2 separate regions of the Homo sapiens genome follow, and region 2 is linked to region 1. A link means that fine-mapping ties the variant in region 1 to the expression of a gene that starts in the linked region. Tissue or cell type: whole blood. Region 1 holds a variant in brackets; the other region holds the start of a gene. All regions are shown on one strand. Distances are between the middles of the regions.

Region 1 (8,000 bases):
CACTGCTCTTTTTCTTCTTCTTCTTCTTCTTCTTTTTTTTTTTCTTTTTTGATACGTAGTCTCGCTCTGTCGCCCAGGCTGGAGTGCACTGGTGCAATCTCGGCTCACTGCACGCTCCGCCTCCCAGGTTCATGCCACTCTCCTGCCTCAGCCTCCCAAGTAGCTGGGACTACAGGCGCCCACCACCATGTCCGGCTCAGTTTTTGTATTTTTAGTAGAGACGGGGTTTCACTGTGTTAGCCAGGATGGTCTCGATCTCCTGACCTCGTGATCTGCCCGCCTCGGCCTCCCAAAGTGCTGGGATTACAGGCGTGAGCCACTGCGCCCAGCCTAAACACTGCTCTTTAGATGTCCATTTATTTGGACTTAAAATATATAGTGCAGGACAACATCAGAGATATTTTCCAGAAAGCAAGTCCCAAAACTCATTCAAATCAGTCATTCTTTCCACACTTATTTACTATGCAACTACTATGTGTGAACAACTGTGTCAGGCATAGAATATGGACCAAAATCTCACTCCTAACCATATGCCAATGATAATATTGAGAATCCCTTATTTGAAATGCTTGGGACCAGAACTGTTTCATATTTCTGAGTTTTTTGGACTTTGGAATATTTGCATTATACTTACAGGTGGAGCATCCCAAATCTGAGAATTCAAAATCTGAAAGGTGACAATGAGCACTTACTTTGAGTGTCATGCTGACATTCCAAAGTTTCAGATTTTGAAGCATGCTGGATTTCGAGTTTGTGGATTAGGGACGCTCAACGTGTATTACCACTGAACTCCTCTGAAAAAGTGTTTTGGTGAGAAATGTCCAAACTAGGGAAGAGCTTAAGAATGACATAAAAGAAGCACATACATAAAGTATATCAAGGTGGAAGTGTGACACCACTCTGCCCTGTAGTCAGAATGGCATCTTGGTTCTGAATGAGAAGTAAAGTTTGCCAAGCATCAATGTAAAGAAGTGGAATTAGACATACCAAGGAGAAAAAAGTTCCAGTTCAAGCCCAAACTAAGCTTCAATGCCCAAGTAATAAAAACCCTGGCAAATTATTTACAGCTCTTTAACACATTCAGTCACTGCTTACTGGATACCACCACCTTGTGACCCCAGGAGAGATGGAAGCCTCGCTGCATCTTCCTTCCTTCCTCAGAGAAGGTACTAAGAGATGCCACACACTACCCTGGCTTTCATCTCCACATCTCTCTGGTGGGCTCTTTTCATCTACATTCAACATGAGAGCTCCTCAGAACACAGCCTCATGCCCTCTAGATTTCATTTGTTTTCTCCTTTAGCCAGTGCTTTTCCAACTCTGGACACCTAATCATTTAGGGATCTTGCTAAAATGTAGATTGTGGTTTGTTAGGTCTAGGGGGGACTCAGATTTCTGCATTTCCAAAAAGCTCCCAGGTGACTCCCATGCTGCTGTCCCCAGACCACAGTTTGAGGTGCAAGTTTTCATTCCAAATCTTGAACCAGAAAAATCAATAAAGTCTATGAGTTTTGTTTGTTTGTTTTTAAGACAGGGTTTTGCCATGTTGTCCAGGCTGGAGGACAGTAGCTATTCACGAGTACCATCATGTCATACTACAGTCTCTAATTCCTGGGCTCAAGTGATCCTCCCACCTCAACCTCCCAAGTAGCTGAGATTACAGGCATACTACTGCACCCAATTTATGACTCATGTTTTAAAAAGCAAATCATGACCATTTTAAAAGTAAATTCCTATGTAAAAGATGGCTGTGAGCCCACAATTGAGTTAATACAAATCAATCAATCAGGAAACACAATGGTACAGATTGGGAAAGACTGAGTCTGAGGGTGTGAGAAAACAAAGTTTTCTTAATGTGAGAAGCTACCAGATCACAAAGATAAAGAGAAGCTCTGCTGAAGAATAAGGCACATTTTACAATTTAATCAGTGCTGTCAATGATGTTTTTCACAAGTCCACATGTGGCTCCCAACAGAATGTACTTGTGGGTAGAGCCAAGGCATAAAACTCACATAGACCAAATACACCCTGGAAAGTAGAAACCAATAATTATCAAGAAGACAACGAGGTGAGATGCCTAAGCGAGTTTTTGGGATTCTGTATGAAAGAGTCAAACAATAGGACTTCATCATGTGGGGTTTTCCTGAAACTCTGACCAGGACTGGTCCTTAAAAAAAAAGACAAAATATGTGGGCAATGAACACCGCTAACTACATACTCAATACCTATCTCCCTTTGTCCCCACCAAAAGAACCCTGACTTTGTCCTGAGCAGCAACAAACCCAGCTAAAAGTTCTCACTTTTCCACACTACTTTGCAGTTAAGGAAAACTATTAAATATATAAAAAGTTCTTTTGAAAGAAATTAACTAAAGATTTCCTGGGAAAACATTTTGCTTTCCTGATATTGCCATTGCCCATTTCTCTGGAATTCCTCCTCCCTCATCCAGCCTGGAATATAGACGTAATACCACGAAGTAAAGCAGTTCACTTTGGGACTATGAAGAAGATAGTTACTAGAAGTCTGAAACTTTTTGGTCTCAGGACCCCTTTATCCTGTAAAAAATGATTAAGGGCCAAGCGTGGTGACTCACACCTGTAATCCCAGCACTTGGGAGGCCGAGGTGGGAGGATCACCTGAGGTCAGGAGTTCGAGACCAGCCTGGCCAACATGGTGAAACCCCATCTCTACTAGAAATACAAAAATTAGCTGGGCGTGGTGGCACATGCCTGTAATGCCAGCTACTTGGGAGGCTGAGGCAGGAGAACTGCTTGAACCTGAAAGGCAGAGGTTGCAGTGAGCCGAGATCGCGCGACTGAACTCCAGCCTGGGCAACAAAAGCAAAACTCCATCTCAAAAAAAAAAAAAGAAAAGAAAAAGATTAAGGACTCCCAAAACCTTTGGATTATGTAGGGTTTTATCTATGGGTATTTGCAATATTAGACATTAAAACTGACAGCGTAAAAACTATATCTCTTAATTCATTTAGCATTAGTAATAAACCCAGTTAACATAAATAACATTTCAATGAAGTTTAACTATTTTCTCAAAAAAAAAAAAATTAGTGAGCAGAGTGGCACTCCTGTACATTTTTATAAATCTCATTGTTTAATAGAAGACAGCTAGATTCCTGCATCTGTTTATGTATTAAATCTCTTCTGATCTGATGCTTTTGTGAGGACCCATTCAAAACTCAGAGTTGACATAATCATGATTTTAAGCTGAAGACATCTGATATTCAATGAATGCAGGAAGAAGCCCTCTCCATACTTCCCTTATATGATTAAAAGCAGAAACTGTGACAAATGAGGCTGCCATAAATTCCCTCTTCAACGGTTTACTCCCAGGAAGGAGATCAAGAGTAAACGTACCATAATTCCCCTGTCTAGGAGGAGTTTTATGGCCATGAAGAAGAGGAAAAGACACTCCCATCTACACAAACATTATCACAAGCTTTCTTATCTCTTAATTTGTTAGGAGGGGAGGGGAGGGGAGGGGAGGGGATGCTAGGGGAGGGGAGGGAGACAGGCAGGAAGGTGGGGAGGGGAGAAAGGAAAGGAAGAAAAGAGAAAAGAGAAAAAAGAAAAGAGAAGAAGAGAAGAGAGAAAAGAAAAGAAAAGAAAGGAGAAAGGAAAAGAAAAACTAAAAGCAGCAGGAAATAAATGACTCATCATATTCTCCATGGTACATGGGAACCACAAAAAGATTAACAGCTGACTTATCCTCAGAAACCAGGGAGGCCAGAGACAGTGGAAGGACATAAAGAACTCAAAGAAAAAAAATGTGAACCAAGATAATTATATTCAGCAAAACTATCTTCAAAAATGAAGATGAAAAATACATTCATAGATAAACAGAAACTCAGAGAATTCATTGCAAGTGGATGCACCTGAAAAGAAATACTAAAGGAAGTTCTTTGAGTTGAAAGCATGTACTGCCAAACAGTAGTCAAAAGTAACTGTGTAACTATAAGACAATATAAATGCATATATATTTTGCATATATATTTTCCTTTCTTAAATAATTTAAAAAGGAATTATATAAAAACTATGTTTATAATTGTATTGTTAAACCTATAACATAAAGAAATGTAATGTATTTAATAGTAATACAAGATAAGTGGGTACAAAGTTGTCATCATTATACTAATATCAGACGAAACAGAATTCAGAAAATTTTACCAGAGATAAAGAGGGACTTCTACTATGAAAGGTTGGCATAAGGAAATGATATCACATGGAAACTCTACACTGAAACAAATGAAGATAATAAGGAGTGCTAACTTTAAAATAACAAACTGTATAAACATATAATGCTCTCCTTTCCTTTATGTCTTTAAAAGACAGTTAAATAAACTAATAACTGCTACAATGTATTGTTGGGTTTGTAACATAAATAGATATGTATAAACAATAATTAGTAAAGAAATAGAGGTACATAGGAGGAATCATTCTATGTCTTACAGGAATTAAATCAATATGAATCTGAAGAAGATTCTGTTAGAAAAATA[T/A]ATATATATATAGTAAACCCTCAACCATTAAGAAAATAATTTTTTAAATAGCATTAGAAATCTTTTTTAAAAATCATTTAAGGAATTAAAATATTACAATACAAAATAATGCAAAAGAAAGCAATAAAGGAAGAACACAGGAACAAAAATGGCAAGACACATAGAAAACAAAAAGTAAAATGGCAAACAAGCAAACCATATCATTAATAGCATGAACTGCAAATGGATTAACAAATCAACAGGAAGGGTTGTCAGGATGTACAATAACACAAAATCCAGTTGTATTCTAAGTTCAGGAGATACAATTAGACTCAAAATTATAAACAGGATTACAGTAAAAGAAGCAAAAAGATACATAGCACAAAAACAACCACCATAAAAAGGGGTAGTCATTATATTAATATCAGATAAAAAAGACTTAGGAAAATTTTACTAGAGCTAAAGAGGGACTTTTACTATGATAAGGTCAACCATCATGAAGGTATAATAATTATAAATATATAAGCACCTAATATGAAAACCACAAAATACATAAAGCAAGAACTGACAGAGCTGACTGAAAAACAGATAATACTTGCAGACTTCAAAATCCTGCTTTCAACAATGAACAGCCGAGCTATGTAAAAGACTTGAACAGCACTAAACCAACTTGACCTAACAGACATCCACAGAATACAAAACCCAACAACAACAACAGAATATACATTCTTCTCAAGTGCACAACAACAGACTATAGAGTAGTCCACAAAACAAACATCAGTAAATGTAAAAGGACTCAAATCATATACAGTATGATTCTGGCTACAACAGAGTTAAACTTTAGAGTTAAATGTTATTGTTTATCAACAGCAGAGAGAAACTACCAAATTCACAAATGCGGAAATTAAACAACAAAATCTGAAATAACCAGTAAATCAAAAAAGAACTCACCAAAAAAAAACTAGAAAATTTATTTGAGATTCATAAAAATGAAGTCACAAAATACCACACTTACACAATGCAACTAAAATAGTGCTTAGGGGGATATTTATAGCTGTAAATGACAAGATTAAAGAAAGGTACAGAGAAAACGCAGTCATATGTAAGTCAGAAAGAAAGGCCTACCAGAAACCAAATTTTCTGGCAACGTGATTTTGGACTTCTTGTCTCCAAAAATGTGAGAAATTAAATTTCTGTTACTTAAGCCACCCAGTCTGTGGTATTTTGTTATGGCAGCCTGAACAGACTAATACAAACATCTACTAAAAAACTACAGGTAACATTATACTTAATGGTGAAAGATTGAATGCTTACTCCCTAAATTTTAACAGCAATTCTATCTGCTTTCACCATTTCTTTTTAACATTTTAATTGTGGCAAAATACACACAATGTAAACACACCATCATATAAAGTATGCATAATATAAAATTCACCATCTTAACCATTTTAAGTGTACAGTTCAGTATTAAGTATATTCACATTGTTGCACAATCTACAGAACTTTTTCATCTTGCAAAAACTGAAACTCTATACTCATTAAACAATTCCCTATATCTTCCTACCCCCGAAATATTTTTAAAAATTTTTACTTTCTGTTTCTATGATTCTGACTACTCTAGATACTTTATACAAGTGGAATCATAACAGTATTTTTCTTTTTGCGATTAGCTCACTTCACTTGGCATAATGTCCTCAAGATTCCTCCGTGTTGTAGCATGTGTCAGAAGCCTTTTTTTTTTTGAGAAGTCTCGCTCTGTCACCCAGGCTGGAGTGCAGTGGCATGATCTCGGCTCACTGCAACCTCTACCTCCTGGGTTCAAGCAATTCTCCTGACTCAGCCTCCCAAGTAGCTGGGATTACAGGTATACACCACTACATCCAGCTAATTTTTGTATTTTTAGTAGAGATGGCATTTCACCATGTTGGCCAGGCTGGTCTCAAACTCCTGACCTCAGGTGATCCTCCCTCCTCGGCCTCCCAAAGTGCTAGAATAACAGGCGTGAGCCGCTGTGCCCAGCCAGAATCCTTTTCTTTTTAAAACAAATGTGAAACTATATGCAATAAATGTACCATATTTTATTTATTCATTCACCCTTTGATGGACACTTGTATTGCTTCCACCCTTTGGCACTGTAAATAATGTTGCTATGAACACAGGTATACAAATATCTCTTTGAGACCTGGCTTTTAATTCTTTGGGGTATATACCCAGAAGTGGATTTCCTGGGTCATACAGTAATAATTATCTTTTACTTTTTAAGGAACTCCTATACTGTTTTCCATTGTGGTTGCACTATTTTACATTCCTATTAGCAGTGCACAATCAGCGTTCCACTTTGTTCGGATCCTCATCAACACATTTTTAAAATATATATAACAGCCATCCTTGATGGTTGTAAAGTGGTATCTCACTGTGGTTTTGATTTGCGTTTCCCTAATTATCAATGATGTTGACCATCTTTTCATATGCCTACTAGCCATTTGTATATCCTCTTTGGAAAAGTGTCTATTCAAGCATTTTAGAATCAGATTATTTGTTGCTGTTGAGATGTAGGAGTTCTTTATATATTCTAGATATTATCCCTTTATCAGATATATGATTTGTAAATATCTCCCATTCCCTAAGTGGCCTTTCCACCCTGTCCACTGTTTCCTTTGATGCCCAGAAGTTTTAAATTTTGATGTAATCTAATTTCTGTATTTTTACTTCTGTTGCCTTTGCTTTTGGTGTCATATCCAAAAAATTTTTGCCAAATCCAAAGTCAAGAAGCTTCTTTCCCTAGGTTTTCTTTTAAGAATTTTATAGTTTTAAGTCTTAGATCCATTTTGAGCTAATCTTTCTACATGGTGTAAAGTAAGGGTCCAATTGTATTCTTTTGCCTCTTAATATCCAGACCCCTGCCACCCCCACCAATATCATTTGTTGAAAAGACTGTCCTTTCCTCACTGACTAGTCTCGGCGCCATTGTGGGAAATCATTTGGCCAAATATGTGAGGCTTTATTTCTGGGACTCTCTATTCTATTCCATTGGTTTCTATGTCTATCTTATGCCAGTACCACACTAACTTGTTTACTGTAGCTTTGTAATAAGTTTTGAAGTCAGGGAGCATCACACCATCACTTTGTTCTTTTTGTTCAAATTGTTCTGGCTATTCAGGATCCCTTGTGATTCCATATAAATTACAGGACAGATTTATCTATTTCTGTAAAACAAAAGTCACTGAGATTTTGAGAAGGATTATACCGAATATACAGATTGATTTGGGCAGTACTGTCATCTTAACAATATTAAGTTTTCCAATAAACACAGGATGTCTTCCCATTTATTTTATGTCTTCTTTAATTTCTTTCATCAATATATAGTAGTTTTCTGTGTATAAGTCTTTACCACTTTGGTTAAGTTTATTCCTATTTTATGCATTTTTGATGCCATTGTAAATAGGACTGTTTTCTCAATATCCTTTTTAGATTGTTCATTATTAGTATATAGAAACACAGCTGATTTGTG
Region 2 (8,000 bases), 180 kb after region 1:
TAAAAGACATTTTAATGTCTGGCAAATTCTTCTCAGCACCACATCGCACTTATTCCAAAGTTGACCACATAGCTGGAAGTAAAGCACTCCTTAGCAAATGTAAAACAACAGAAATCACAACAAACTGTCTCTCAGACCACAGTGCAATCAAATTATAACTCAGGATTAAGAAACTCACTCAAAACTGCACAACTACATGGAAACTGAACAACCTGCTCCTGAATGACTACTGGGTAAATAACGAAATGAAGGCAGAAATAAAGATGTTCTTTGAAACCAATGAGAACAAAGACACAACGCACCAGAATCTCTGGGACACATTTAAAGCAGTGTGTACAGGGAAATTTATAGCACTAAATGCCCACAAGAGAAAGCAGGAAAGATCTAAAATTGACACCCTAAAATCACAATTAAAAGAACTAGAGAAGCAAGAGCAAACAAATTCAAAAGCTAGCAGGAGGCAAGAAATAACTAAGATCAGAGCAGAACTGAAGGAAATAGAGACACAAAAATCCCTTCAAAAAATCAATGAATCTGAGAGCTGGTTTTTTGAAAAGATCAACAAAATTGATAGATTGTTAGTAAGACTAAAGAATCAAATAGATGCAATAAAAAAAGATAAAGGGGATATCACCAGCGATCCCACAGAAATACAAACTACCATCAGAGAATACCATAAACACCTCTACACAAATAAACTGGAAAATCTAGAAGAAATTGATAAATTCCTGGACACATATACCTTCCCAGGACTAAACCAGGAAGAAGTGGAATCTCTGAAGAAACCAATAACAGGCTCTGAAATTGAGGCAATAATTAATAGCCTACCAACAAAAAAAGTCCAGGTCCAGATGGATTCACAGCCAAATTCTACCAGGGGTACAAAGAGGAGCTGGTACCATTCCTTCTGAAACTATTCCAATCAATAGAAAAAGAGGGAATCCTCCCTAACTCATTTTATGAGGCCAGCATCATCCTGATACCAAAGCCTGGCAGACACACAACAAAAAAAGAGAATTTTAGACCAGTATCCCTGATGAACATCTATGCGAAAATCCTCAATAAAATACTGGCACACCGAATCCAGCAGCACATCAAAAAGCTTATCCACTATGATCAAGTCGGCCTCATCCCTGGGATGCAAGGCTGGTTCAATACAGGCAAATCAATAAATATAATCCATCACATAAACAGAGCCAATGACAAAAACCACATGATTATCTTAATAGATGCAGAAAAGGCCTTTGACAAAATCCAACAGCTCTTCATGCTAAAAACTCTTAATAAACTAGGTATTGATGGAACGTATCTCAAAATAATAAGAGCTATTTATGACAAACTCACAGCCAATATCATAGTGAATGGGCAAAAACTGGAAGCATTCCCTTTGAAAACCGGCACAAGACAGGGATGCCCTCTCTCACCACTCCTATTTAACACAGTGTTGGAAGTTCTGGCCAGAGCAATCAGACAGGAGACAGAAATAAAGGATATTCAATTAGGAAAAGAGGAAGTCAAATTGTCCCTGTTTGCAGATGACATGATTATACATTTAGAAAACCCCATCGTCCCAACCCAAAATCTCCTTAAGCTGATAAACAACTTAAGCAAAGTCTCAGGGTACAAAATCAATGTGCAAAAATCACAACTATCTGATTTTTTTTTTTTTTTTTTGAGACGGAGTTTCACTTTTGTTGCCCAGGCTGGAGTGCAATGGTGTGATCTTGGCTCACCACAACCTCCGCCTCCCAGATTCAAGTGATTCTCCTGCCTCAGCCTCCCTAGTAGCTGGGATTACAGGCATGTGCCACCACGCCCGGCTAATTTTTTTGCATTTTTAGTAGAGATTTCTCCCAACAGGGGTTTCTCCATGTTCGTCAGGCTGGTCTCAAACTCTCAACCTCAGGTGATCCGCCTGCCTCGGCCTCCCAAAGTGCTGGGATTACAGGCGTAAGCCACTGTGCCCAGCCTACAACCATCTTTGACAAACCTGACAAAAACAAGACGTAGGGAAATGATTCCCTATTTAATAAATGGTGCTGGGAAAACTGGCTAGCCATATGTAGAAAGCTGAAACTGGATCCCTTCCTTACACCTTATACAAAAATTAATTCAAGATGGATTAAAGACTTAAATGTTAGACCTGAAACCATAAAAACCCTAGAAGAAAACCTAGGCAATACCATTCAGGACATAGGCATGAGCACGGACTTCATGACTAAAACACCAAAAGCAATGGCAACAAAAGCCAAAATAGACAAATGGGATCTAATTAAACTAAAGAGCTTCTGCACAGCAAAAGAAACTACCATCAGAGTGAACAGGCAACCTACAGAATGGGAAAAAAATTTTGCAATCTACCCATCTGACAGAGGGCTAATATCCAGAATCTACAAAGAACTTAGACAAATTTTCAAGAAAAAAACAACCGCATCAAAAAGTGGGCAAAGGATATGAACAGACAGTTCTCAAAAGAAGATATTTATGCAGCCAACAGACACATGAAAAAACACTCATCATCACTGGTCATCAGAAAAATGCAAATCAAAACCACAGTGAGATACCATCTCACACCAGTTAGAATGGCGATCATTAGAAAGTTAGGAAACAACAGATGCTGGAGAGGATGTGTAGAAATAGGAACACTTTTACACTGTTGGTGGGACTGTAAATTAGTTCAACCGTTGTGGAAAACAGTGTGGCAATTCCTCAAGGATCTAGAACTAGAAATACCATTTGACCCAGCGATCCCATTACTGGGTATATACCCAAAGGATTATAAATCATGCCACTATAAAGACACATGCACACGTATGTTTACTGTGGCACAATTCACAACAGCAAAGACTTGGAACCAACCCAAATGTCCATCAGTGATAGAGTGGATTAAGAATATGTGGCACATATACACCATGGAATACTATGCAGCCATAAAAAAAGGATGAGTTCATGTCCTTTGCATGGACATGGATGAAGCTGGAAACCATCATTCTCAGCAAACTGTCACAAGGACAGAAAACCAAACACCGCCATGTTCTCACTCATAGATGGGAACTCAACAATGAGAACACTTGGACACAGGGAGGGGAACATCACACACTGGGGCCTGTCGTGGGGAGTGAGATGGGGGGAGGGATAGCATTAAGAGAAATACGCAATATAAATGACGAGTTAGTCGGTGCAGAAAACCAACATGGCACATGTATAGCTATGTACCAAACCTGCACGTTGTGCACATGTACCCTAGAACTTAAAAAAAAAAAAAAAATCAATTCCCAAAGCATTTCTCTCATTTCTTCTGAAAAGTTTCTAAAAACACAACTCCAAGGATGAAATGGAAGTTAAAGGTAAACAGGCAATAGCGCTGAATACGTAATTTCAGTAACTCAGAATTTTCTCCAACCTCTGCTCTAAAGAAGCTTAGCTACAGAAGAGCAGTTACCTTTGAAACATTTTCCCCAACATAAAGATATCCGGAATGTGAAGCTGCCATTAAAACTGTGACACAGATCTACATTTACTGATACATCAAAACATCCCTAAAGTTCGAAATACGAGCTACAGAATCACATCAACCGCCTAACTTGTCTGTAGCCTAAACTCTAGTCCGGAGTTCATCTGCAAGCGGAATTGGGAAGTATTTCAGAGCCAGCATCTCCTCGCGCCATCCAGGTACCTACACACTTGAGGCCACCGAGTCACCTGCGCAGCCGTTGCTCCTCCAAGACCAATCCGGGCTCCCCAGACCCACCGGCCTGAATCTGGAGGACAGCAGTCCGCGTGACAACAGCGACTCGGAGATCAGCACCCGTCGGGAAAGCCGCGTACCCGTTGAAGCTGGCGTCACGCCCAAAGGAACAAACGCCAGAGCGTGTGTCCTGGGCAAAGGCGGCCCGCCGCTCCGGTCCCCGGGCAGCAGCGGCCGGCGTCAGGCCGCAAGGCGAGGGGCGGGGACAGGACTCTACCCGGCAGCCCAGCGCCGAGCGCCCGCGCCACTCCGGCCTTGCGCCATTCCGGCCCCACGACGGCCGGCGGCGGCAGCGCGGCTGGGCTCAGCGGCTCGCAGCCCGGGCGCCCCCCCTGCCGGCCGCTCGCTAGCTCAGCCTCACCCGCAGTCTTGTCCGCTGGCTCGCTCGCCCGCCTACAGGTCGACAGGGCCCAACGACCCGGCGAGCAACTTCACGGAAGGCACTGGCCGACAACGCTCCGCTGCCGCCGCGCCCCGCCCCTTTGTGACACCACCTACCAATCGCTGGACGGCGCTTTCGCTGCCCTCCAATCAGCGCGGGCGGGGGCAGGCCTGGCCCCCGGACGTGGGCGGTTGCCGGGGCGCCAGGGCCCTGGGGCCTTCTTGGCATTCGCTGGAGGTTGTGAGTTACGAGGCCCGGATGTTGATCTTTTATTACTAGCAACACTGGACCCCTGACTCGTGCCCACGCGGGCGTCTGGAGGGCAGCCGCATGGCCTGCTGGGAACGGCGGGGTTGAAGCCGGAGCCGCCCTCCGTGAGACCCACCGGGGATCCTCTTCCAGGCGCCTGATTTGCTGGAGATAGGCGATACAGGCAGACGCTGTCCAGTCGGTGGCCTCTCCAGAGTGAGGGGCGCTCCTGGTGCGTTTGGGCCGGCCTGTCCTAACAAATCTGCTTTAGGCTTCACCGTCCCCTAATGTTTCTGGCCTCAATTGCCTCATCTGGAAAATGGGGGCATTACCGTGCCTGCTTGAAGACAAAGGCGAAAACAGATAACTTTCTGTAGTCCTCATACAATTTACTGAGAACTGTAGGCCAGGCAATGGAGTAGGCACCCTGGGCTCAAATCCCAGCGTTGGGTAAGCCCAGCCACACCTCCTGCTCCAGTTTCCAAGCTGCTGAGCTGCGGTGTAAACAGTAACTGGCTTCAAGCCAACACCTGCCTTTCAACCTAACATGGGAGCCCACTGCCTCGTTCCGTTCCCCCTACCGATTTTCCAACTCCGTGAACCTCCTTCACTAAGTGGGTTACTCAGCTGACAAAGAATGTCATCTCACTCCCACTGCGGGTTCACTCATCCTCGACTTCTGGCTCAGAGGAGCCAGTCTAATATGAAACTAAACATCTAATCTGTGTCTCCTGTCCTCTCTCATTCTTCTGAGACCCTACCCACCAACTTATCTCCACAGTTCAACGAACTATTGAGCATACACTGGGGGAGTATGGTGAGGCACTGGGCATTGATTCACCAGTCTCGCCGTTGGTTCCTTCTGAAACTCCACATATGCTTAATGCTAAATAGATTGGAGACCTTTGAGGACAGAGCTATGATGGTAATCATCTTTGCATTCCTGAGCCTAGAATAGGGCCTGTGATGGAGACTTACTGAGTAAAAACCTTAGCGTTTCTCACCCTTGCCTGCCCACTTCATTCACACTGGAGAATTGACAGCATGGACCGTGGAGTCAGGCAGGTGTGTTTAAAGCCTTGCCTCCCAATACCAGAAGCTCCATTACCTGGCCAAGTCATTCATTCTTTACAACATCATCATCATTATCATCTGCCATTCTTCAAGTGCCAGATAGTTGATAAGGGTCTTTACGTATTCTCTCCCCATCACAATCCTGCAAAGTTGGTAGTGAAATCCCTCGTCTACAAAGGAGTAAACAAAAGCCAATTAAAGTAGAACAATTTACCTATAATCAAACAGCTCTATGTCGGAAAGCCATATTTAAACTAGGACACAATACAAAAATCCAACCTTGTTCCATTATTCCACATTGCTTCCAGATTTTAGCTTTATCTGTAAAATTAGTGTTACTACATTACCTATCTGATAGACCATGGAGACTGAATAAAATAGCATTAAAAGTTGTTACCATAGGAACTTTTTTTTAACGTAAGTTCTCTCTCCCTTTCAAGCCTCTCAAAATAGCAGCTTGCGTATTTTCTAAACCTGTTGTCTCCTGAATCCCCTGAAACCAATCCTACTGATTGATGAGTAGATTTAGTTGTTCCAAAAGAAAATCATCGTATTTAACAAATGCTGACTCTGACCGACATTGGGTACTACAGCAAGAAACTATGTGCACAAATAACCTACGGACAGAAGGAAGATGCATAAAATGAATAGGGGAAAGGAGTGGCCAACTAGCAAGTGCCCTCATCTGTCATCACGTCACTCTCACAGCAGACTTGGGCAAATGGTTGACCTGTGGGAGCTGAACAAAATCTTTGACTCTGGGTATGAGTAATTCCCTGTCTGATCTTACAGTGCCCAAGGAAGAAGTCAGTAGCTCCAGGATCGCTGAGACCAACCTGGGCGGCCTACAAGACTGCACCATGGTGACAGGCTGAATAGTCAGCAGCAAGACGACAGAGCACCAAAAAACACAGACTAGAATGGGGTCAGCCATCCAGGTGGCTAGTGGCTACTGCCTTTGACGATGCAGATAAAGAAAATTTTCATTCCTGCAGAGTTCTATGGGGCAGTGCTGCTCTAGAGGCTGACATTTCTATCCTCAGCACTTCCCCCGGCTATTACCTAGGTTCATTCTGCTGCTTCCACAAGGCAAGAATGGAACAGAATGCCTTAGAGCAATGGTCAGCGAACTGTTTATGTAAAGGGGCAGGGCCAGGCGCAGTGGCTCACGCCTGTTATCCCCGCACTTTGGGAGGCCGAGGCAGGTGGATCACGAGGTCAGGAGTTCAAGACCAACCTGGCCAACATGGTGAAACCCCAACTCTACTAAAAATACAAAAATTAGCTGGGTGTGATGGCAGGCGCCTGTAATCCCAGCTACTCGGGAGGCTGAGGCAGGAGCATCGCTTCAACCCAGGAAATAGAGGTTGCAGTGAGCCAAGATCACATGACTGCACTCCAGCCTGGGTGACAGAGCAAGACTCCGTCTCAAAAAAATAAATAAAAGGGGCAGATAGAAAACATCTGAGGCTCTGTGAGCCATCCGGTCTCGTCATAATTACTCAACTCTTACATTGGAGGTAGGGTGAAAGCAACAATAGAAAGTAAGTAAATCAATGAATGTGGTTGTGTTCCAATAAAACTTTATTAACAAGATCAGACAGTGGGGGGGGGGGGGTAGCATAGTTTGCCAAACGAAAATCCAATAAAAATTTATTAAAGATTTAAATGTGGCCAAGCGTGGTGGCTCATGACTGTAATCCCAGCACTTTGGGAAGCGGAGGCGGGTGGATCACAAGGTCAGGAGGTCGAGAACATCCTGGCCAACATGGCAAAACCCTGTCTCTACTAAAAGCACAAAAATTAGCTGGGCGTGGTAGCGCGTGCCTATAGTCCCAGCTACTCAGGAGGCTAAGGCAGGAGAATCACTTGAACCCGGGAGGCGAAGGCTGCAGTGAGTCGAGATCGCACCACTGCACTCCAGCCTGGGCAACAGAGCGAGACTCTGTCTCCAAAAAAAAAAAAATCAAAAAACAACATTTAAGTGTAAGACCTGAAATGAGAAAACTTTTCTTTTAGGTTTTTGTCTAGAAGTTTCTAGGTATTGATCTTGACAATAATTTACAGAATATGTCACAAAAGTGGAGACATGAAAAGCCAAACTAAACATGGGACAATGCCAAATTGAAAACCTTCACAGCAAAGAAACCAATGAACAAATTAAAAAGCTTTTTAACAATTATCCAAAATACCTAAAGAACTTGTATTAATAAATAGGAAAAAAAACTGAAACAAAACAGAAAAGCATCAAAAAGCTTAAAAATAAGCAGATTTGGCCGGGCACGGTGGCTCATGCCTGTAATCCCAGCACTTTAGGAGGCCGAGGTGGACGGATAACCTGAGGTCGGGAGTTCGAGACCAGCCTGACCAACATGGAGAAACCCTATCTCTACTAAAAATACAAAATTAGCCGGGCATGGTGGCACATACCTGTAATCCCAGCTACTAGGGAGGCTGAGGCAGAAGAATCTCTTGAGCCCGGGAGGCGGAGGTTGTGGTGAGCCAAGATCATGCCACCAGTCTGGGCAACAAGAGCTAAACTCCGTC

Evidence for each region. PIP is the estimated chance that this variant, and not a neighbour inherited with it, causes the effect.
Region 2: ZFAND4 starts here. The variant in region 1 is fine-mapped to the expression of ZFAND4 in whole blood (INTERVAL, PIP 0.98).

What each region holds. Positions count from the first base shown.
Region 1 is chr10:45,492,266-45,500,265 of GRCh38, forward strand. The region is part of intron 2 of MARCHF8 (membrane associated ring-CH-type finger 8); the gene reads right to left. All of the region lies in intron 1 of LOC105378286 (a long non-coding RNA gene), which reads left to right. Among named protein-coding and RNA genes, the nearest start is that of MARCHF8, 39 kb to the right of the region's middle. The variant T/A (reference allele first, on the strand shown) is at 4,511.
Region 2 is chr10:45,668,570-45,676,569 of GRCh38, forward strand. ZFAND4 (zinc finger AN1-type containing 4) reads right to left here and starts at 4,203. Exons shown (of 10, transcript NM_174890.4): 1 at 3,681-4,203. RefSeq lists a silencer at 3,786-4,505.